Homo sapiens: one gene and its partners. The protein of the gene in region 1 interacts with the protein of each later gene in a pairwise test. Each region holds a gene or a part of one and is shown in the gene's direction. Other genes may lie near its edges.

The links.
Region 2: the proteins of STX5 (region 1) and MTUS1 interact in binary tests that used the Homo sapiens proteins (3 or more experiments, as listed by UniProt).
Region 3: the proteins of STX5 (region 1) and IMMT interact in a two-hybrid assay, tested with the Homo sapiens proteins (one large-scale study listed by BioGRID and IntAct).
Region 4: the proteins of STX5 (region 1) and TACC1 interact in binary tests that used the Homo sapiens proteins (3 or more experiments, as listed by UniProt).

The regions. Positions count from the first base shown.
Region 1 is NC_000011.10:62,810,724-62,816,504, reverse strand, and holds part of STX5 (syntaxin-5), read left to right. Parts: intron 1-5,781. UniProt on the Homo sapiens protein: Mediates endoplasmic reticulum to Golgi transport.
Region 2 is NC_000008.11:17,747,516-17,753,296, reverse strand, and holds part of MTUS1 (microtubule-associated tumor suppressor 1), read left to right. Parts: intron 1-5,781. UniProt on the Homo sapiens protein: Cooperates with AGTR2 to inhibit ERK2 activation and cell proliferation. May be required for AGTR2 cell surface expression. Together with PTPN6, induces UBE2V2 expression upon angiotensin-II stimulation.
Region 3 is NC_000002.12:86,145,806-86,151,586, reverse strand, and holds part of IMMT (MICOS complex subunit MIC60), read left to right. Parts: intron 1-66; coding exon 67-290; intron 291-3,753; coding exon 3,754-3,885; intron 3,886-5,389; coding exon 5,390-5,519; coding exon of another isoform or gene 5,520-5,551; exon of another isoform or gene 5,552-5,781. UniProt on the Homo sapiens protein: Component of the MICOS complex, a large protein complex of the mitochondrial inner membrane that plays crucial roles in the maintenance of crista junctions, inner membrane architecture, and formation of contact sites to the outer membrane.
Region 4 is NC_000008.11:38,845,347-38,851,127, forward strand, and holds part of TACC1 (transforming acidic coiled-coil-containing protein 1), read left to right. Parts: intron 1-1,352; coding exon 1,353-1,473; intron 1,474-2,608; coding exon 2,609-2,677; 3' UTR 2,678-5,781. UniProt on the Homo sapiens protein: Involved in transcription regulation induced by nuclear receptors, including in T3 thyroid hormone and all-trans retinoic acid pathways. Might promote the nuclear localization of the receptors.

The DNA.
Region 1 (5,781 bases):
GCTCAGGACCAGCCTAGGCAACATAGCAAGACCCTATCTCTCCAAGAAAATGAAAAATTAGCCTGGCATGGTGACATGCCTGTAGTCCTAGCTATTTAGGAGGCTCAGCGGAGAAGATCACTTGAGTCTAGGAGTAGGAGGTTACAATAGGCTATGATGGTGCCATTGTACTACAGCCTGGGCAATAGAGTGAGACCGTATCTCTAAAAAATTTTTTAAAATAAAAATTTTAAGTTTACCAGTAAGTTGAAAGAACCATAATAAACACTAATATAGCTGCAACCTACATTCAACAGTTAACAGTTGGCCAGATTAGCTTTATCTTTATTTTTCTGAACCATTTCACAGTAGGTTGCCGATATCGTGACACTTAATCCTTAAATATTTTAACATGCGTCTCCTAAGAATACACAAATTCTTTTTAAAAACCACATCCAGTACTCACTTCAGCAGGACATATATTAAAATTTGAATAATACAGAGGTTAGCATGGCCTCTGCACATGGATGGCACAAATTTGTGAAGCTTTCTGTATTTTTTATTACCTGGGTGATGAGATAATATGTATACCAAGCCCCAAGACACGCAATTTATTTATAGAACCAACCTACACATGTACCCCTGAAACTAGAATAAAATTTAAAAATTAAATAAAAAAATAAAAACCAGACTGGGCGCGGTGGCTCACACCTGTAATCCTAGCACTTCGGGAGGCCAAAGCGGGCGGATCACCTGAGGTCAGGAGTTTGAGACCAGCCTGGCCAACATGGAGAAACCCCATCTCTACTAAAAATACAAAAATCAGCTGGGCATAGTGGTGCATGCCTGTGGTCCCAGCTACTTGGGAGGCTGAGGCAGGAGCAGTGCTTGAACCTGGGAGGCAGAGGTTGCAGTGAGCCGAGATTGTGCCACTGCACTCCAGCCTGGGCGACAGAGCGAGACTCTGTCTCAAAAAATAAAAAAAAAAAAACCACGCCGTTATCCTATCTATGAAAATTAGCGATTTCCTAATATTATGTATTATTCAGTGAGTGTCACAACAGAGTGATACTCTGTCTCAAAAAATAAAAACCACACCCAGTTATGTCTGTGAAAATTAATGATTTCCTAATATTATGTATTATCCAGTGAGTGTTACGACAGAGCGATACTCTGTCCTAAAAAATAAAAAATAAATAAAATAAAAACCACACCCGGTTGGCTGGGCATGGTGGCTCATGCCTGTAATCCCAGTACTTTGGGAGGCCAAGGCGGGCGGATCACAAGCTCAAGAGATCAAGACCATCTTGGCCAACATGGTGAAACCCCATCTCTACTGAAAACAGAAAAATTAACTGGGCGTGGTGCTGCGTGCCTGTAGTCCCAGCTACTCGGGAGGCTGAGGCAGGAGAATCGCTTGAACCTGGGAGGTGTAGGTTTCAGTGAGCCGAGATCGTACCACTGCACTGCAGCCTGGCAAGAGAGCAAGACTCCATCTCAAAAAAAAAAAAGACACCCAGTTATCCTATCTGTTAGAATTAACTATTTCCTAATATGTGATATCCAGTGAGGGTTTACATTTTCCCAGTTGTCCCCAAACTGTTTAATAGCTTTTTAAATATTAAATCAGAAAGCCAGGCATAGTGGCTCACACCTGTAATCCCAGCACTCTGGGAGGCCGAGGCAGGCGGATCACCTGAGGTCGGGAGCTGGAGACCAGCCTGACCAACATGGAGCAACCCCGTTTCTACTAAAAACACAAAATTTGCTGAGCGTGGTGGCGCATGCAGGAAAATCACCTGAACCCGGGAGGCAGCGGTTGCGGTGAGCCAAGATTGCGCCATTACACTCCAGCCTGGGCAACGAGCGAAACTCCATCTCAAAAAAAAAAAAAAAATTAGCTGAGCGTGGTGGCACCTGCCTGTAATCCCAACTATTTGGCATGCTGAGGCAGGAGAATCTCTTGAACCTGGGAGGCGGAAGTTGGGTGAGCCGAGATCACGCCGTTGCACTCCAGCCTGGGCAACAGAGTGAGACTCTTATCTAAAAAAAAAAAAAGGAAGAGTCCCGGGTGCGGTGGCTCACACCTGTAATCCCAGCACTTTGGGAGGCAGAAGTGGGTGGATCACCTAAGGTCGGGAGTTCGAGACCAGGCTGATCAACATGGTGAAACCCATCTCTGCCAAAAATACAAAATTAGGGCGTGGTGGTGCATGCCTGTAATGCTAGCTACTTGGGAGGCTGAGGCACTAAAATCACTTGAACCCAGGAGGTGGAGGTTGCAATGAGCCAAGGTTGTGCCATTGCACTTCATCCTGAGCAACAAGAGCGAAACTCCATCTCAAGTAAATTAATTAAATTCTTCCTCTTTTCTGAGCATCGCTATAGGCTTTAATTATAGGTTTTAATGTATTGGTTGTCTTATTATTAGTTAGGGCAATGATTATTGTGAGTGCTCAAGTTGTTCCAAATATGTCTGGTGGGAGCCTAGAGGGTTTAAAAGGCTGAGAGAAAATAAAGGTATGTTAGCATGCCAATGGAAATGATGCAACGGATAAATTTAAAAATGATAATATAGGAGAAAGATGGGAGAATTCTTGAAATGATGTCCTTGAGAAGGTGAAAGGAAGTGGGCTCCGGGGCATAAATCAAGGCTTGGCTCTAAGAGGAGCTGGCGATAGGTGGGAAGACAGAGGCTATTGTAGCAATGCTCGGGGTGGAGCGGCATTTATCTTCAGACCACTTCAGTCTTCTCAGCTCATTAAGAAGAAAAGCCAGTAGAGGAGAGGAGGTGTAGGAGGTTTTAGGAATCCACTCCTGCCCACTTGATCTTATCCCTTTAGCAGGGTCCAACCCTGATTGATCTTTATTCCCCACGGTATCTAGCAGAGTGCTTTTACTCTACGTTGTTGATCATGTGAAACTGAGTGAACACCTACATTTGTATAAAGCCGGTTTCTGAACATCAATCCACTAAGCAGCCTCACACATTTAACTGGCCAAGGTAAAAGAAAACACTTGGAGATTCTGATTCGAGAGATGTGAATGGAGTGGGCTTTTCAGGGAGCTTCATTTTTACAAATTCCATAGGGGGTTCTGATGAGCATCCAGGTTTGGGAACTACTGATTAAAAGAAAGTTTGTTTATTCAACTACTATATGTTGAGCACCAGCCATTTATAAGGTACCGTGAGTACAGCTGTCTTGATCCTAGAGTCAGGAGAATTGACTGATTTTTTTTGTTGTTGTTTGTTTGAGACAGTCTCACTCTGTCACCCAGGCTGCAGTGCAGTGGCATTATCTTGGCTCACTGCAACCCCTTCCTCCCAGGTTCAAGTGATTCTCCTGCCTCAGCCTCCCGAGTAGCTGGGATTACAGGCATGCACCACCATGCCTGGCTAATAATTGACTGATTTTTTTTTTTTTTTTTTTTGAGACGGAGTCTCACTCTGCCACCCAGGCTGGAGTGCAGTGGCAACCTCCGCCTCCTGGGTTCAAATGATTCTTCTGCCTCAGCCTCCCAAGTAGCTGGGACTACAGGCACGAGCCACCATGTCCGGATAATTTTTGTATTTTTAGTAGAGATGGGGTGTCACCATATTGGCCAGGCTGGTCTTGAACTCCTAGACCTCGTGATCCGCCCACCTCGGCCTCCCAAAGTGCTGGGATTACAGGCGTGAGCCACCGCACCCGGCCTAATTGATTTTTATCTATTTCAGCTGAGACCTAGGGAACCCCTTGCAGAATTATGCCATAAACACCATAGCTCCCTGAGCTATGTTGTATTTTGAATATTAGAATATTAAGTCTGGGCGTGGTGGCTCACGCCTGTAATCTCAGCTCTTTGGGAGGCGAGACAGGCGAATCACGAGGTCAGGAGATCGAGACCATCCTGGCTAACACGGTGAAACCCCATCTCTACTAAAAAAAATACAAAAAAATTAGCCGGGTGTGGTGACCGGCGCCTGTAGTCCCAGCTACTAGGGAGGCTGAGGCAGGAGAATGGCGTGAACCCAGGAGGCGGAGCTTGCAGTGAGCCCAGATCACGCCACACGCCACTGCACTCCAACCTGGGCAACAGAGTGAGACACCGTTTCCAAAAAAAAGAATATTATAGAGTCAGTGAAACAGAATTATAAAAGATATGGAGGGCCAGGCGCAGTGGCTCATGCCTGTAATCCCAGCACTTTGGGAGGCCGAGGCGGGCGGACCACCTGAGGTCCAGAGTTTGAAACCAGCCTGACCAACATGGAGAAACCCTGTCTCTACTAAAAATACAAAATTAGCCAGGCATGGTGGCGCATGCCTGTAATCCCAGCTACTCTGGAGGCTGAGGCAGGAGAATGGTTTGAACCCGGGAGGCGGAGGTTGCTGTGAGCTGAGATCGCACCATTGCACTCCAGCCTGGGCAACAAGAGCAAAACTCCATCTCAAAAAAAAAAAAAAAAAAAAAGGTATTTGAGTTCTTTCCTCAATCCATATACATCTAAAATAAAGTTATAGCATATAGGCAACTTTACATTCTAGTCTTCCTTGAAACAGTGTCATAAGTATTTTTCACTGTTAGCATGTGTTTGCTCATTGGTTTAGCAAACATTTGTTGCTGCTGTGAGCTAATCCTGCTGGGTCTGAGGATAAAAGGGTGAAAGACCATTCTGGTCCTCCTGGAGCTCACTAGTAGGAGAGACATAAGTTGACAGTGACAGCTCAGTATGATAGGGCAAGAAGAGAAGGGGATGAGGCTGGGTGTGGTGGCTCATCCCTGTAATCCTAGCACTTTGGGAGGCCGAGGCAGATTACTTGAGGCCAGCAGTTCAAGAAAGCCTGTGCAACACAGAGACCCCGTGTCTATTAAAAAAAAAAAAAAAGGGATGAGAGAACTCAGAGTAGGTACTGCTCCTAGATGGGGCCAAGGGGCCTTCCCAGAAGTGATACCAAGCTAAGACTTGGAGGGAATGCCAGCCCAAAAAGGGGAAAGGAGAAGCTGTTCCATGTGAGGAAAAAACAGCACAGAAATGAGAAAGAACTTGGTAGATACAGGAGTGCAGAATTATTCAGCATGGCTGGGGGAGTGGTGAGAGGCAAGGCCAGGTCACAGATAACCTGTGTGTCACAGCAAGAAATTTGGTGTCAGGGAGAGAACATAAGAAGAAGCAAGCGGATTGATGCTGGGTGAGAATTAGGTTTGTTCTGGGTGTGCTGAGTGCCTCAGACTTCATGGGACAGCTAAATGACAGAGTTTAGTAGGCATTTCATGTTCTGATGTTTGGAAGAGAAGGCAGTGCTAGAGGTAAGGACTTAGGACAGTGGCCTCTTGGTGAAACCCTGGGCATAGACCACCCAGAGACTGGGTAAAGTGAAAAAAAGGTCAGGACAGATCCCCCATGGAGTCAGGGGGTATGTAGAGAAGGGAAGAATCTGGCCAGACTGAGGAGGAAGGTTGAGGAAGATGAGAGAAGAAAGCAGAGAGAGAAATGTGTCCTTAGAACTTGGGATAGAAGAATTTTAAGGAGTGGTTATTTCTCCTTGCTCCTGAGAAAGAAAGTTCGAGGTAAGGATGTGTTTGAGTCAGGAGGGGCTTGAATTAATTGGATCAGTGCCAGTATTTTCAGTGGAATGGCTCAGTAGCAATTTTACAGTATGTTGGAGCATAAAAGAAATAAGGAAGTAGAATTTATGGGCAACCATATACAAAATAAATTTATGAAAGGATGCCATCTTTAAAATAGGTGTAGACATTCATATGCTTCCTCCCTGCATGCCAGTGGATCTGGGTTTCAGCACTTGCTCTAGAAACCACTGA
Region 2 (5,781 bases), on another chromosome or scaffold:
ATAACTCCTGGACTCTTGCGGAGGAGGCAGCTCTGGGAAGTAGAGCCCTCTTGTATGAGCAAGAGTGTTCTTGATTTTTCCTCTGACCGGCCAATAATGATTTTTGGCAAGTAATTTTTCGAGACCCAAAGATGAAAGGATTGGACCTAGTGGATGTGTGAAGCCTCTTGCAGCCTTAATATATTAATTCCTGGTATATAAAATAAAATCTTTTACTTATGTATAGTGAAAAACCAGTATGTTTTCCATAGCGCCTGTCTAAAATATTTGGGGGGGACCTAGAGAGTGCTGTTTAAAGAATAAAGAATTCACATGCAGTGTAAAGGTGATTTTCCTTTAAACATGCATGTGTTTTTGAGAATAGTGTGTAGAAATTGGTTTTCTGGGTTTTAAAAACATTTGACAGGCCACTGTTGGTCGTTGGGCATGTGTCCTCAGCCCTATTTTTGGCAGTGGGGACTTAGGTGTATTTTCAGCCCCAGACAGGCTGTCCTTGGGTGCCTGTCCTCTGGGCCAGGAAGGGAGCTAAGTGCCAGCGGAGAAAGGCAGGTGTGACACAGACAGCCTGTCCCTTGGAGGGCTCGTGGCAAGAGGAATGAAGCACATAGAATAGCAAGTGCAGAAGGGCTGACTTAGGTGTGTCTTCAGGGTGCATGGGGACCACAAGGGAGGGAATTGTCAGGTCCGTTTAGAAGACAAGGTTAGGAAAGACCGAAGATATTCTAGATTCTCTAAAACATCAGTTTAGACATGTTTGGGCTTTAACAACCAGTCTTCTCTATTTGGAAGAAGGGTACACCACAGTGATTTCTAAACTAATGAGTTCATCCGTTGTTTCAAAACTCAGATTTAGTTTTTAAGTTATCTTGAAGTCAAACTTAGAAAACCGATATCATTTATAATTTTAATTTTTTTGCAAAATTAAATTACAACATACTCTTAATTCTAATCAACATTCTTAGTTTGGCATTTACAGATATACATAGAAACACGATGTTTATTCTCTTGATTTATGGGAGACTTTTTTTGGTGTGTCAGTCCCCAGCTACCAAAAACTCTATCATAAAGTTTCTTTTTCTTTAATGACATTTGTCTTGAATTTAAATTGGTTGTGTAATTTTGAAACTAAAAGTTTTCCTGATTTGTGCATTGAGTCTTAGGGTTATGTTGCCCCTGTGCAGCTTGAAAACCTGTTTTTCAGGCTCCCGATGTGGTACTGAGGTAAGGATAGAATCATCAGGTTGAAATGGATCCTAGTATGTCTTGGAGAAACAGCACTTTTCGCCTCAGGAATCTGGCTGTTAGGATTCATAATTAGATATGAAATACTTTGTAAGTCTTGAAAGATTGTCCCATATTCGCATATGCTTATCAACTGGCATAAGGGACTCTTTTTTCTTTTTTGCTTTCTTTTTTTTTTTTTTTTTTTTTTTTAAGGCAGAGTCTTGTTCTTGCTCTTTCGCCAGGCTGGAGTGCAGTGGCAAGATCTCGGCTCACTGCAACCTCCGCCTCCCAGGTTCAAGCAATTCTCCTGCCTCAGCCTCCCAGGTAGCTGGGACTACAGGCGTGCACCACCACATCCAGCTAATTTTTGTATTTTTAGTAGAGACGAGGTTTCACCATATTGTCCAGGATGGTCTTGATCTCTTGACCTCATGATCCACCTGCCTCGGCCTCCCAAAGTGCTGGGAATACAGGCGTGAGCCACTGCCCCCGGCCTACTCTTTTTTCACGATCATGTCTGAAGCACAGTGCTCTCTAATTTTGCTAGTTTACCTCTTGCACATTTCCATGTCTCTGGGAAGGAGGACTGGAAAGTGTCTGGGCAGACCCTCATAGGCCACTGGCTTTGCACTTACTGTAGAGAGCTGAATGAATTTGCTGCGTGTTTTCCTGAAACATGAATGTCGGTTGGTCACTTCAGCAGCACTCAAAGGCTCTTACTGCCCTGGATTGACGAAGAGACCATGCTGGAGGGATGTTAATTTTCTTTTTCTTTGAGATGGAGTCTCCTCTCTCACCCAGGATGGAGTGCAGTGGCGCGATCTCGGCTCACTGCAACCTCTGCCTCCCAGGTTCACGCATTTCTCCCAAGTAGCTGGGACTACAGGTGCACATGCCTGGCTAATTTTTTGTATTTTTATTAGAGATGGGGTTTCACCACGTTGGCCAGGCTGGTCTCGAACTCCTGACCTCAAGTGATCCGCCCACATTGGCCTCCCAAAGTGCTGGGATTACAGGCGTGAGCCATCGCGCCCGGTCGGATGTTAATTTTTACTGTTGCTTTGTTGGCCTTGGCCTGCCTTAGGCCTTGAGTTTACTGAATCCCTAGACTGCCTGCAACCTCACAGCTCATTGGTGGTCAGGGTGTATCTGAATCTTTAGAAAAGTTCTTATTTGGAAGAAGGAACTTGATTTTTATTTGAAACGGGGCTAGATGTAGCTCCTCACAACAGAGGTTATGTGTTCATGATAGTGTGTGAGATAAAGGGAGTGGAGACTTAACCTAAAAGGAAAGGAATTGATATTTATTCAGTGCTTGCTCTGGGTCAGGCACTTTGCTCAGGTGCCTTAGTTATATTATGCCATTTAATGGGCCCTGTAACGCTCAGGTGCTTTCCATACATTGTTATTTACTCTTCCCAATAACAACAGGGCAATTGTTGTCGACATTTTAATACTTCAGCGAGGTCACTTAAAACTCACACAGCTGGTAAATAGTAAAATTGGGATTCACACTCAGAGCCCTCACTTGAATCCTGGCCTTTTCTGCTCCATACACCATACGGTTTCAAAATTTTTGGAATGTTGGCTCTGAAAGGCAAAACAAGTGATTTGCTGAAGATTCACTTTTGTAAATTGATGAGCAGTTTGCCTTACTTTTTAAAAGAAGGTTTTCTCTGGGAGGTTAACTTTTGGGTTGCTTTTTAAAAGAAGATTTTTCTCTGGGAGATGAATTTAGCCAGCTTTAATTTAACCTAGCCAGAGACAGAAGATCTTTGTTAGTTTGTGTACAGTCACTTGCTTTTCTTGGCCAATTCTGTATTGTTCTCCAGTGCCAAAACATGACCTCCAGCTGTTCTCATGGGTGATTGGCCTGCTAAGTTATTGTTGAATTCACCTAATGTATGAATTCGACTGCCATCGGCATTGGGCTTTATGTGTATCTATCGGAAATTAACACTTGAGATTTATTAAAGAAAGAAGAGTGATGACAGGGAACATGCTGCTTTACAAGCACGGATTTTAGAGTAGTTTCAAATTGTAGCTCCACCATTTACTGGGCAAAGTGACCTCTGGCAGGTTACTAAGTCTCTATTGAGCTCAGTTGTTCTTTGTGTCAAAAAAAGGGTCAAACTCTGTAATATATTTGAAGAGATTTATTCTGAGCCAAACATGAGTGACCAGTGGCCCATGACACAGCCCTTAGGAGATCCTGAGAAGATGGGCCTAAGGTGATCGAGGTACAGCTTGCTTTTACACATTTTAGGGAGACATAAGACGTCAATCAGTACATGTAAGGTATACAGTGGTTCTGTCTAGAAAGGAGAGACAACTGGAAGTGGAGGCAGCTTCCAGGTCACAGGCAGATTTAAAGATTTTCTTTCTTTTTCTTTCTTTTTTTTTTTTTTTTTTTGAGACAGATTCTCTGTTGCCCAGGCTGGGGGTGCAGTGGTGTGATCTCTCGGCTCACTGCAGCCTCTGCCTCCCGGGTTCAAGTGATTCTCTTGCCTCAGCCTTTTGAGTAGCTGGGATTACAGGTGAGGACCACCACACCCAGCTAATTTTTTTGTATTTTTAGTAGAGACTGGCTTTCCTCATGTTGGCCAGGCCGGTCTCGAACTCCTGGCCTCATGTGATCTGCCCACCTCGGCTTCTCAAAGTGCTGGGATTACAGGTTTGAGCCACCACCCCCAGCCTAAAGATTTTCTAATTGGCAGTTGGTTCAAAGAGTTAAAGACCTGGAATCAACAAAAAGGAATGTCTGGGTTAAGATAAGGAGCTGTGGAAACCAAGGTTTTATCATACAGATGAAACCTTCAGGTAGCCGGCTTCAGGGGGAGTTGATTGTAAATGTTGCTTATCAGACTTAAAAGAGTCTGTTCTATCAGTCTTAAGGTCTTTGTTGATGTTAATGCTGGTCAGCTGTGCCTGAATTCCAACCCTTCGGAGAGTATAATTATGTCTGACTCCCCCTTCCTTTCATATCCTGAACTAGTTTTTCAGGTTAACCTTGGAATGCCCTTGGCCGAGAGAAGTGGTCCCTTCAGATGGTTGGGGGGCTTAGAATTTTATTTTTGCTTTACATTAATGTAAAGGGAGAATTGCAAATTGTAGTTTGGTGTTGGAATTCACACTGTGAGTAAGGCTCAGACTCCCATTTCCTCTATGTAGAATAGAAACATTTATTGGGTGCATACTATGTATTATACATATGGTGATGATTGTTAGGATGTAGGGAAAAAAGAGACCCTGTCTGAGTGCCTAGTGCAGTGGGTAATACTGTTGCAGGAGTTTTTCTCAACCCATTTGTAAAACTTGCGATGGGGGTGCCCCATTCAGCCCGCCATGCTCAACCTCTTGCGGGCAGGAGTGTGTGGGCAAGTGAGTACAGGATCCAGCCAGCCACTTTGAGCACCGGCAGGAGCATGCTGTGTGCAGGCCCCACAGTGGTGCCCAGGTGGTGGTGTCTGTGACCCTAAAGCCCCAGAGGGCATGCTACAGTGCTCTCTTGGCTCCACCATCCATGGACACCGGTGTGTCATCAGCTCAGTGGGCCCTTTGCCTCACTGTGTGGGGCAGCTGCCCTCCAGTAGCGAGGGCAAAGGGTCAGTGTGATAACCTTTTTTGGGTACCCAAAGTTGGTGGGTCCCAAGCTCTTGTCCACTGTCCAAGAAGAATTGGGTCACATGGACACCTGAAGGATGGTGGAGGCAGATAATTTTATTTAGCAATGAAAGTGGCTCTCAGCAGAGAGGGTAGCTGAAGACGGGACAGGACGGGCAGATAATCTTCCCTAAAGTCTGGCCATCTACACTTGGCTCTTCTCCAAAGCTAAGCCATCTCTCCTCCAAAGTCCAGCTGTCTGTCTGCCATCCAAGTACTAACCAGGCCTGACCCTGCTTAGCTTCAAAGATCAGGCGAGATTGGGTGTGTTCAGGGTGATATGACAGTAGACTCAGCTGTCCTCTGAAGTCTCCAGTTGATATGATTTGGCTGTGTCCCCACCCAAATCTTGTATTGAGTTCCCACATGTTGTGGGAAGGACCCAGTGGGAGGGAATTGAATAATGGGGGGGCAGGTCTTTGCCATGCTGTTCTCATAATAGTGATTAAGTCTCACAAGATCTGATGGTTATTATAAGGGAGAGTTTTCTTGCATGAGCTCTCTTTGCCTGCTGCCATCCATGTAAGACATGTCTTGCTCCTCCTTGCCCTCTGCCATGATTGTGAGGCTTCCCCAGCCACGTGGAACTCTTAAGTCCAATTAAACCTCTTTCTTTTGTAAGTTGCCCAGTCTCATGTACGTCTTTATAAGCAGCGTAAAAATGGACTAATACATCAGTCAAGCCGCTTGTCTCCCCTACCAAGTGAGTCTGGGGTCTTTACATGAATGGGATGTGGGGGGCAAGGCAGGCCATAGGTAGTTTTGGAAAAGGCAACTTTCAATTGGTAAAAAGACATTATTCAGAAAGAACTAATTAGGAGAGAGTGGGCAAACAGGTTTAGAAGTTCTCACTTTAGGCTGTGGGTTTCAGGGTTTTTGCCTTGAAGGTGGGGT
Region 3 (5,781 bases), on another chromosome or scaffold:
GATTACCTTGTAATGAGGTATAATTTCAGTGACATCATTAATATTTTAACATGCTCTTTTGCTTAGCTGACAAGCTCTCTACTGATGATCTGAACTCCCTCATTGCTCATGCACATCGTCGTATTGATCAGCTGAACAGAGAGCTGGCAGAACAGAAGGCCACCGAAAAGCAGCACATCACGTTAGCCTTGGAGAAACAAAAGCTGGAAGAAAAGCGGGCATTTGACTCTGCAGTAGCAAAAGCATTAGAACATCACAGAAGTGAAATACAGGCTGAACAGGACAGAAAGGTAAGAGAAATGAGAATTGTTGCCTAACATTTAAAGTGACTCTAACTTGATTGTTTACTTGTAGAAATAATACTGGCTCAGCCGGGTGCAGTGGTTCATGCCTGTAATCGCGGCACTTTGGGAGGCCAAGGTGGGTGGATCCCTTGTGGTCAGGAGTTCGAGACCAGCCTGGCCAATATGGCGAAACCCCCGTCTCTTCTAAAAATACAAAAATTAGCTGGGTGTGGTGGCTCGCACCTGTAATCCCAGCTACTCGGAAGGCTGAGGCAGGAGAACCACTTGAACCAGGGAGGCAGAGGTTGCAGTGAGCTAAGATCGTGCCACTGCATTCCAGCTTGGGCGATGGAGCAAGACTGTCTCAAAAAAAAAAAAAAAATACTGACAGTCATTGGCTTTAGGATATTGAATATAAGTCATGCCAGCTGACCTTTAGAATGGAGCTTAGGTCCTCATTCCCCTCATCAGAACTTCTAGGAAAGGAGTGATCGAGCAGAGTTCCTTTATGTTGAGCAGATGCAGAAGTGTAAGAAAGGAATAAGCTACTGGTATCCAGGATTATCTAGCTCATCTTTCCAGTGGAGCTGAGCCTCTGTCCCTTAAAGCAGTGCTGAACGAATCTTTGTTGGAGTCTGAGTATATTTTTCTCTGCTATTGTTGTTAAGTGGTTGGTGGTTAAAAAACAGGTGAAATAGCTTCTTTAGCCCTCTGTCTGGGCACACCATTTATTAAATAGGTGTCCACAGGCTGATTTGGGAACCTAACTACTCATCCCACCTTTGTGTCTTCTTAGCAGTACTACTGGCCACTCCTTCCTTCTTGAAACTATTTCTTCCCTAGGCTCCCTGACACCATACTCTTCTGGCCTTTCTCTTACCTTGCTGGCCACTCCTTAACCTCCTTTTCTGCTCAGCCTCTCAAATGGTGGCATACCTGGCATTAGTTCTGAAACGTTTTCTCCATCTGAACTGTCTCTAAGTGTTCTTGTTGAGTCCCGTGACTTGGAAGTTTAAATACCATCTATACCTGATAAATGTCTATCTCCAGCTCTGACCTCTGCCTTGGCTTCAGGTTCCTATCCAGCAGCCTACCTGGTATCTCCAGCTTGATTTTCAGTAGTCATTTCATGCTTATCATGCTCCAAACAGATTTATTTATTCTCTCCAACCTGTCTTCCAGCCCCTCAACTTGTTTCTCTCTAAATAAACTGAGTTGAACAATCTGCTCAGCTATTCCAGCCCAAATCATGCTTTGTTGTTCCTCCATCAACTCATATTCAGTTGCCCCACAGATCCTACCAGTTTTGCATCCAACATAAATCCCAAATCTGTCCACTCCATTACTACCACCTTAGCCCAAGCTGTCATCTTAACAGCTTCCACTATTTTTTCTTTTTCTTTCTTTTTTTTTTTTTTTTTTTGAGACAGAGTCTGTCTTTGTGGCCCAGGGTAGAGTGCAGTAGTGCAATCTTGGCTCATTGCAACCTCTGCCTCCCAGGTTCAAGTGATTCTTGTGCCTCTCAGCCTCCTGAGTAGCTAGACTTACAGGTGCATGCCACCACATGTGGCTAATTTTTGTATTTTTAGTAGAGACGGGGTTTTGCCATGTTGGCCAGGCTGGTCTCGAACTCCTGACCTCAAGTGATCCACCTGCCTTGGCCTCCCACGGCGCCAGAATTACAGGCATGAGGTACCATGCCCGGCCTTCCCCAAGGAATTTAAACACCAAAGTGCTGGGATTACAGGTGTGAGCCACCATGCCCAGCCAATTTGCCCTTTCTTCATACCCTTCTTTCTGTGTCTATTTACGCAGGCAAATAAAACATAGTCGAATCAGACACTACACTGCTGGAAATCCTCCATGGACTACCCATTTCATTTAATATAATTCCAAATTCTTAACCAGTACCCAAAAGGCTTCTTGATCACTGCATGCCATGAGCCATTTCACTGCTCCAGGCACCCTGGTATTTTTTGTCTGTACCTTGACTATATCTTTTGTCTTGGGACCTTTATGTTTTCTCTGCCTAGTACATTGTTCTATCCTCTCTGTTTAAACCTTGAGCTCTAAGCTTAAGTTTTAAGCCTAGATGTCACTTTGTTAGCAAGACTGAGATTTCCTATCCCTTCAGTCCAAAGTAGAGTCTCTGTATTACTTTCTGTTATGTTGCCCTGTTTATTTTAAATGTAAGGTGGGGGAAAAGGAGGTTGAAGGGGTGTTGATGCTTCACAACAGGTCCTTGCCTGCTCAGTCATATGTAGAAATATGTATCACAATCTCAGATGTCTTTTTTGTTTACTGTCTGCTGCCTCCATTGAGATATACACTGTGAGAGCAAGAAGTTCGTCTGCCCTAAGCACCATTGGATCCGTACAGATAGTAGGCACTGCCTGGCACACAGGGCTAGTAGCACTTCATAAATACTTATGCACTGACTGAATGGATTCATTGATTTATTATATTGTTTCTGAGAAAAAATAAGTTCTGGATTTCAGGTAATCAGTGTTAAGTAATTTGTAAAGTGACCTATGGCTATTTGTTAGGCAAGGTATATTTTTTGGTTTTTTTTGGCCCATGTTGAATTTAAATTCATTTAAAAATAAGCAGTTTTCTTTGTTTAGAAGTCTATGTCAAGTCTATGTCAATAACTACCAGATACTTACTAATTTTCTTTTCTTTTTTCTTTTTGAGATGGAGTCTTGCTCTGTCGCCCAGGCTGGAGTGCAGCAGCGCAATCTTGGCTCACGGCAAGCTCTGCCTCCTCGGTTCACGCCATTCTCCTGCCTCAGCCTCCCGAGTAGCTGGGACTACAGGCACCCGCCACCACACCCGGCTAATTTTTTTTTTGTATTTTTAGTAGAGATGGGGTTTCACCATTTTAGTCAGGATAGTCTCAATCTCCTGACCTCATGAGCCACCTGCCTCAGCCTCCCAAAGTGCTGGGATTACAGGTGTGAGCCACCACGCCCGGCCAACTAATTTTCTTAATGATTCTTCAAAGTAGGCATTATTACTCACAAATGAGAAAGTGGAGATTTGAGAAGATAAATCATTTCCCCAAGGTCACACAGATGGTTGTAGTAAAGCTACGCTTGATTCCAAGTATATAGTTACTTTTTTTCATATCCTGGATTTAGTTATTTCTCAGAGGAGCATGTGATTCAGGAAATGGCAGTGTTTTATATGAGAGGCAGCCTGGTGATGTGGAAAAACCACAAGTTTGGGGGTGAGAGAGACCTTTGTTTGAAATCTGGTTTTTGCCACAGCTGTGTGATCTTGTTTGAATCACCTTCCAGGGTTTAGTTTTCCGTTTCACATGAGAAGTAGAAGTGTACACATGCCTGGCACATTAGAGGCGTTCAGGATATGGAAGCTGCTGTTGTCATGGTTGATAGTGGTCTTTCTGTTTTCCTAAAAGTATATGTGGAGAATTGAAAACTAATAACTACTATGTTTGGTTTCACAGATAGAAGAAGTCAGAGATGCCATGGAAAATGAAATGAGAACCCAGCTTCGCCGACAGGCAGCTGCCCACACTGATCACTTGCGAGATGTCCTTAGGGTACAAGAACAGGAATTGAAGTCTGAATTTGAGCAGGTGAGGACCTGGACTCCCTTCAGCCACACCCCTCTTCCTGACAGGATTAAGAGACTCTCCTTTCCTTTTAATGTACTCTGAGGATGTCGAAGATTTGGAAATCTCCTTGTATGTCTACAAAACTGCTTCTTTTTACATAATGGTGTACCTGTGTGTTCATGATCAGATGTGTTTTTAAAATATATATTCTAGTCATTTGGAATCTTCAGAGCTTTAAGGAGAGTTGGTAAAGGGGATTTCAGGAATGCAGACAGTAATATTTGACATGTGTATCTTCCTCCTATAGATGGCATGGTACTGCTTAGATTTTTATAACTGAGGTAATTTCCCAGAGAAGTTTTGAAATCCCAGTAAATTATCAGGATGCCTGTAATCATAGTTTCTATTCAAGAAATCATTTACAGTAATATTAACTTGTTACTTTGTCTTGCAAGAAGATATTGAGGTTTTCTAAGTAAAATCTTCCAGAGAATCGCGATGTATGTCAGTATGAAAAGGTATTTTAAATTCTATTTGGATATTTTTCTGAGAAAAATTAATGTATAAGCTCTTAAATACAAGATATTAGAATATAATTTAATCTAATTATTATGTTTAGGTTTGCAGTACAGATAATTTACTTTCTAAAGCTGACAATTTGTGGCTGAGCACAGTGGCTAACACCTATAATCCCAGCAATTTGGGAGGCTGAGGCGGGTGGATCGCTTGAGGACAAGAGTTCAAGACCAGCCTGCCCAACATGGCGAAACCCTGTCTCTATTAAAAATACAAAAATTACCTGGGCATGGTGGTGCATGCATGTAATCCCAGCCACTCCGGAGGCTGAGGCATGAGAATCGTTTGAATCTGGGAGGTGGAGGTTGCAGTGAGCTGAGGTTGTGCCACTGCACTCCAGCCTGGATGACAGAGCAAGATTCTGTCTCAAAAATAAAATACAGTTGGCAGTTTGTTTCTGACTTTAACAGCCTTCTCTCTTCTCTTGGTATGCCTCCTCTAATATTAGGTTCCATCAGTAAACCTGTAAAGAATTATATACATCGGCCGGGCACGGTGGCTCACGCCTGTAATCCCAGCACTTTGGGAGGCCGAGGTGGGCGGATCACGAGGTTAAGAGATCGAGACCATCCTGGCCAACATGGTGAAACCCATCTCTACTAAAAATACAATAATTGGCATGGTGATGCATGCCTGTAATCCCAGCTACTTGGGAGGCTGAGGCAGGAGAATCACTTGAATCTGGGAGGCGGAGGTTGCAGTGAGCCAAGATTGTGCCACTGCACTCCAACCTGGCAATAAAGCAAGATTCCATCTCAAAAAAAAAAAAAATATATTATATACATCAAATATGAGTCAGGACATTTTTGAAACTTTACACAAAATGTAGGAATTTCGTGACAACTCTAAGGCCCTCTTTGCTTCAGCAAGTAGTTGCTGGAAGATTACACAGTTACATGACATGCATTGAGTATCACTTTTTTCTGGAACTATTTCTGTTTTATTTCAGAACCTGTCTGAGAAACTCTCTGAACAAGAATTACAATTTCGTCGTCTCAGTCAAGAGCAAGTTGACAACTTTACTCTGGATATAAATACTGCCTATGCCAGACTCAGAGGAATCGAACAGGCTGTTCAGAGTAAGCATAAGCTATGTTTATCTTACAGATAATTTTCCTCAGCATAATTTATCAAAATAATTTTATAGGGAAAATGGGGTACATGTACTGACATCAGGACATAAAAATACTAATCACTCTACTTAATTGCAGTTTTTGCCATTAAAAGTAATGGCAAAATCTATATAACTAGAAATTTATACCTTGTATGACAAACACAAAATCACCATTTACAAGGCTATTTACCCAGTATCCTTTGGCTATGTCGCATGTGCCTGGGTGG
Region 4 (5,781 bases), on another chromosome or scaffold:
CTTATGCATTCTTCTCCATAGGTTTTACAGATGCCTCTATATATTATACGTAGGTTTATTGTATATCCCTCTAGTCGTTTCTTTGTGTCTTTATAAATACTATGATTTTGAACTATAAAAAATATTTACAATATTGGAATCACATTAGACAAATTTCCTTTTTCCCTTAATAGCATATCCTGACCATTTTTTCATGTCAGAACATATAGCTGAATCTAATTCTTTTTATTAGGTCGTGGAACTATAGCATTTCTTTATTGATGGGCACTTAGTTACAAACTTTTTTACATTGAAGGTAACACTACAGCGAACATCCTGTGCACTCACTGTTATGCCAGGTGGGAGTATTTCTGTGAATACATAACTGAAAGTGGCATTGCTGCGTTGGAGGGCATGTACACTTTAAATTGCCCTGGTGACTACCACATTGCCCGCCACAAGGCAGCGCCAGTTTTCAGCCGCCCATTGGCACATGAGCCTGCCTGTCTCCTTGTATCTCGGCCCACACAGGACTGTCCTTGTTAATTTTTGCCAATTCAATCAATTTTCAAAGCTTATCATTTTAATTTACATGCCTCTGATTGCTAATGAGGCTTTAGCATCCTTTCATCAGTTTAATGGCTGTTCATCAACTGACATTTATGGTTTTTAAGAATGCCTTTCAGGCCGGGCGCGGTGGCTCACGCTTGTAATCCCAGCACTTTGGGAGGCCGAGGCGGGTGGATCACGAGGTCAGGAGATCGAGACCACGGTGAAACCCCGTCTCTACTAAAAATAAAAAAAAAAATTAGCCGGGCGTGGTGGCGGGCGCCTGTAGTCCCAGCTACTCGGAGAGGCTGAGGCAGGAGAATGGCGTGAACCCGGGAGGCGGAGCTTGCAGTGAGCCGAGACTGCGCCACTGTACTCCAGCCTGGGTGACAGAGCGAGACTCCATCTCAAAAAAAAAAAAAAAAAAAAAAAAAAAGAATGCCTTTCACATCTCATTAATAAACTCATTCCCTGTAGGCCCGTGTCTCACAGATGTCAGTGGTTAGTATCCCAACTCTAGCTGTGATCGTCTCCAAAATTATGCAGTCTGCTTTTGTACTGGTCTAAAAAAAAAAAAAAAATCTAAGACTGTTATAGAAACCATTTGCTAGTGAGATACAAATTTTGAAGTTGTCTGTAAATTGAATTTTTATAAATTAAAATGGAATTATTTAGGTCACCGATTTTTGTTTTTTTTCTCTCATGCAGTCAATTCTTTGAGGCCTGTGCCTCACAGATGTCAGTGGTTAGTATCCTGACTGGCTTTGACTAGTGGCTAATCATGTGCTTTTTGTCTCTTTATTACACCCAAACACCATAAACAGAGCCAATGAAGAGATTGCTCAGGTTCGAACAAAAGCAAAGGCTGAGAGTGCAGCTCTCCATGCTGGACTCCGCAAAGAGCAGATGAAGGTGGAGTCCCTGGAAAGGGCCCTGCAGCAGAAGGTACAGAAAGGGACCTGATCTGGGTGGCCACAGAGACGTTTGGTTTTCCTCCTCAGCAGTGACTCACTTAATGACAGATCTGGGTGAAAGAGGCCTTGGCTTTCTACTCAGACATTTCAGTCCAGCTCCTTTCTGAACTGATCCAGGTGGAAACAAACAAGTCAAACCATTAAATTTTCAAGCACATCATGTGGAAATCATCCACAGGCAGGGTGCAGAGAGGAAGTTGCATTTTAACTGAAGTTCAGAACAGCTTCCTAGTTGGGGTCATGAGACTGCCTTTCTTTCTTTCTTTGTTTTTTATGCAATATATTAATATGAAGCCATCTTCCCCCTTCATTGCTTTAGATCAGTGGTTTGCAGTTGGGGGCAGTTTTGCCCTCCAGGGGATGTTAGGTGTTAGGTAATGTCTGGAGATATATTTGTTTGGTTGTCACCACTGGGAGATGCTGCTGGTATCTAGTGCAGGAAGCCAGGGATGCTGTTAAACATCCTACAATGCACAGGACAGCCTCTGACAACACATTTACCCATCCTAAAACATCAGCAGGGCTGCTTTGAGAAACTGCTATAGATAAATGAAAACCAGGACTAGCAACAATCCCTGTTTCTCACTAAGCAATTTTTAGCTTTCCGTTTTTATATGTCTCCGGTGTATTTTCTTTACTGCATTTCCAATTATGTACTCATACCTGTGCCATCCATTCATCAAGAGCAGGAGTTTTTATCACAGGGTCTGTTAGCCCCTAGAACGGTGCTCCCTGGGAGATTCAGACTCCAGCATCCCTAGATATGCTAATGGATTGAGTGAGACCCAGATACTTATGTTTTTGACAAGTACCCCAGATAATTCCTCTGATAACAAGAAAATTGGGGAACTAAGAGATTCATGGACAAGTTTCAGAGGGCTGGTGACTGTCCTCACCCTTTACTCAATTTAAGCATGATTTTATGAGTACATTTTTTGAGGTGTGTAGCCTTTTTTTCTTTAAAGCATCTCTGATGTAGAAAAGTTAAAAATCACTGAATTAGGATGTCTAGGGTAGGGTAGATCCAGACTTGGGACTAGTTAACTCTATTTGCCTTTATTTCAGAATACAAAGTGGCCTGCATAATTATGTCATTTGTCTTTCAGAACCAAGAAATTGAAGAACTGACAAAAATCTGTGATGAGCTGATTGCAAAGCTGGGAAAGACTGACTGAGACACTCCCCCTGTTAGCTCAACAGATCTGCATTTGGCTGCTTCTCTTGTGACCACAATTATCTTGCCTTATCCAGGAATAATTGCCCCTTTGCAGAGAAAAAAAAAAACTTAAAAAAAGCACATGCCTACTGCTGCCTGTCCCGCTTTGCTGCCAATGCAACAGCCCTGGAAGAAACCCTAGAGGGTTGCATAGTCTAGAAAGGAGTGTGACCTGACAGTGCTGGAGCCTCCTAGTTTCCCCCTATGAAGGTTCCCTTAGGCTGCTGAGTTTGGGTTTGTGATTTATCTTTAGTTTGTTTTAAAGTCATCTTTACTTTCCCAAATGTGTTAAATTTGTAACTCCTCTTTGGGGTCTTCTCCACCACCTGTCTGATTTTTTTGTGATCTGTTTAATCTTTTAATTTTTTAGTATCAGTGGTTTTATTTAAGGAGACAGTTTGGCCTATTGTTACTTCCAATTTATAATCAAGAAGGGGCTCTGGATCCCCTTTTAAATTACACACACTCTCACACACATACATGTATGTTTATAGATGCTGCTGCTCTTTTCCCTGAAGCATAGTCAAGTAAGAACTGCTCTACAGAAGGACATATTTCCTTGGATGTGAGACCCTATTTTGAAATAGAGTCCTGACTCAGAACACCAACTTAAGAATTTGGGGGATTAAAGATGTGAAGACCACAGTCTTGGGTTTTCATATCTGGAGAAGACTATTTGCCATGACGTTTTGTTGCCCTGGTATTTGGACACTCCTCAGCTTTAATGGGTGTGGCCCCTTTAGGGTTAGTCCTCAGACTAATGATAGTGTCTGCTTTCTGCATGAACGGCAATATGGGACTCCCTCCAAGCTAGGGTTTGGCAAGTCTGCCCTAGAGTCATTTACTCTCCTCTGCCTCCATTTGTTAATACAGAATCAACATTTAGTCTTCATTATCTTTTTTTTTTTTTTTGAGACAGAGTTTCGATCTATTTTAAGTATGTGAAGAAAATCTACTTGTAAAAGGCTCAGATCTTAATTAAAAGGTAATTGTAGCACATTACCAATTATAAGGTGAAGAAATGTTTTTTTCCCAAGTGTGATGCATTGTTCTTCAGATGTTGAAAAGAAAGCAAAAAATACCTTCTAACTTAAGACAGAATTTTTAACAAAATGAGCAGTAAAAGTCACATGAACCACTCCAAAAATCAGTGCATTTTGCATATTTTTAAACAAAGACAGCTTGTTGAATACTGAGAAGAGGAGTGCAAGGAGAAGGTCTGTACTAACAAAGCCAAATTCCTCAAGCTCTTACTGGACTCAGTTCAGAGTGGTGGGCCATTAACCCCAACATGGAATTTTTCCATATAAATCTCAATGAATTCCCTTTCATTTGAATAGGCAAACCCAAATCCATGCAAGTGTTTTAAAGCACTGTCCTGTCTTAATCTTACATGCTGAAAGTCTTCATGGTGATATGCACTATATTCAGTATACGTATGTTTTCCTACTTCTCTTGTAAAACTGTTGCATGATCCAACTTCAGCAATGAATTGTGCCTAGTGGAGAACCTCTATAGATCTTAAAAAATGAATTATTCTTTAGCAGTGTATTACTCACATGGGTGCAATCTTTAGCCCCAGGGAGGTCAATAATGTCTTTTAAAGCCAGAAGTCACATTTTACCAATATGCATTTATCATAATTGGTGCTTAGGCTGTATATTCAAGCCTGTTGTCTTAACATTTTGTATAAAAAAGAACAACAGAAATTATCTGTCATTTGAGAAGTGGCTTGACAATCATTTGAGCTTTGAAAGCAGTCACTGTGGTGTAATATGAATGCTGTCCTAGTGGTCATAGTACCAAGGGCACGTGTCTCCCCTTGGTATAACTGATTTCCTTTTTAGTCCTCTACTGCTAAATAAGTTAATTTTGCATTTTGCAGAAAGAAACATTGATTGCTAAATCTTTTTGCTGCTGTGTTTTGGTGTTTTCATGTTTACTTGTTTTATATTGATCTGTTTTAAGTATGAGAGGCTTATAGTGCCCTCCATTGTAAATCCATAGTCATCTTTTTAAGCTTATTGTGTTTAAGAAAGTAGCTATGTGTTAAACAGAGGTGATGGCAGCCCTTCCCTAGCACACTGGTGGAAGAGACCCCTTAAGAACCTGACCCCAGTGAATGAAGCTGATGCACAGGGAGCACCAAAGGACCTTCGTTAAGTGATAATTGTCCTGGCCTCTCAGCCATGACCGTTATGAGGAAATATCCCCCATTCGAACTTAACAGATGCCTCCTCTCCAAAGAGAATTAAAATCGTAGCTTGTACAGATCAAGAGAATATACTGGGCAGAATGAAGTATGTTTGTTTATTTTTCTTTAAAAATAAAGGATTTTGGAACTCTGGAGAGTAAGAATATAGTATAGAGTTTGCCTCAACACATGTGAGGGCCAAATAACCTGCTAGCTAGGCAGTAATAAACTCTGTTACAGAAGAGAAAAAGGGCCGGGCACAGTGGCTTATTCCTGTAATCCCAACACTGTGGAAGGCCGAGGCAGGAGGATCACTTGAGTCCAGGAGTTTGAAACCTACCTAGGCAACATGGTGAAACCTTGTCTCTACCAAAATAAAAATTAGCTGGGCATGGTGGCACGTGCCTGTGGTCCCAGCTACTTGGGAGGCTGAGGTGGGAGCCTGGGAGGTCAAGGCTGCAGTGAGCCATGATCATGCCACTGCACTCCATCCTGGGTGACAGCAAGATCTTGTCTCAAAAAAAAAAAAAAAAAAAAAAAAACCAGGAGTGAAAAAGGAAAGTAGAAGGCAGCTGCTGGCCTAGATGTTGGTTTGGGAATATTAGGTGATCCTGTTGAGATTCTGGATCCAGAGCAATTTCTTTAGCTTTTGACTTTGCCAAAGTGTAGATAGCCTTTATCCAGCAGTATTTTAAGTGGGGAATGCAACGTGAGGCCAACTGAACAATTCCCCCCGTGGCTGCCCAGATAGTCACAGTCAAGGTTGGAGAGTCTCCTTCCAGCCAGTGACCTACCCAAACCTTTTGTTCTGTAAAACTGCTCTGGAAATACCGGGAAGCCCAGTTTTCTCACGTGGTTTCTAGCTTCTT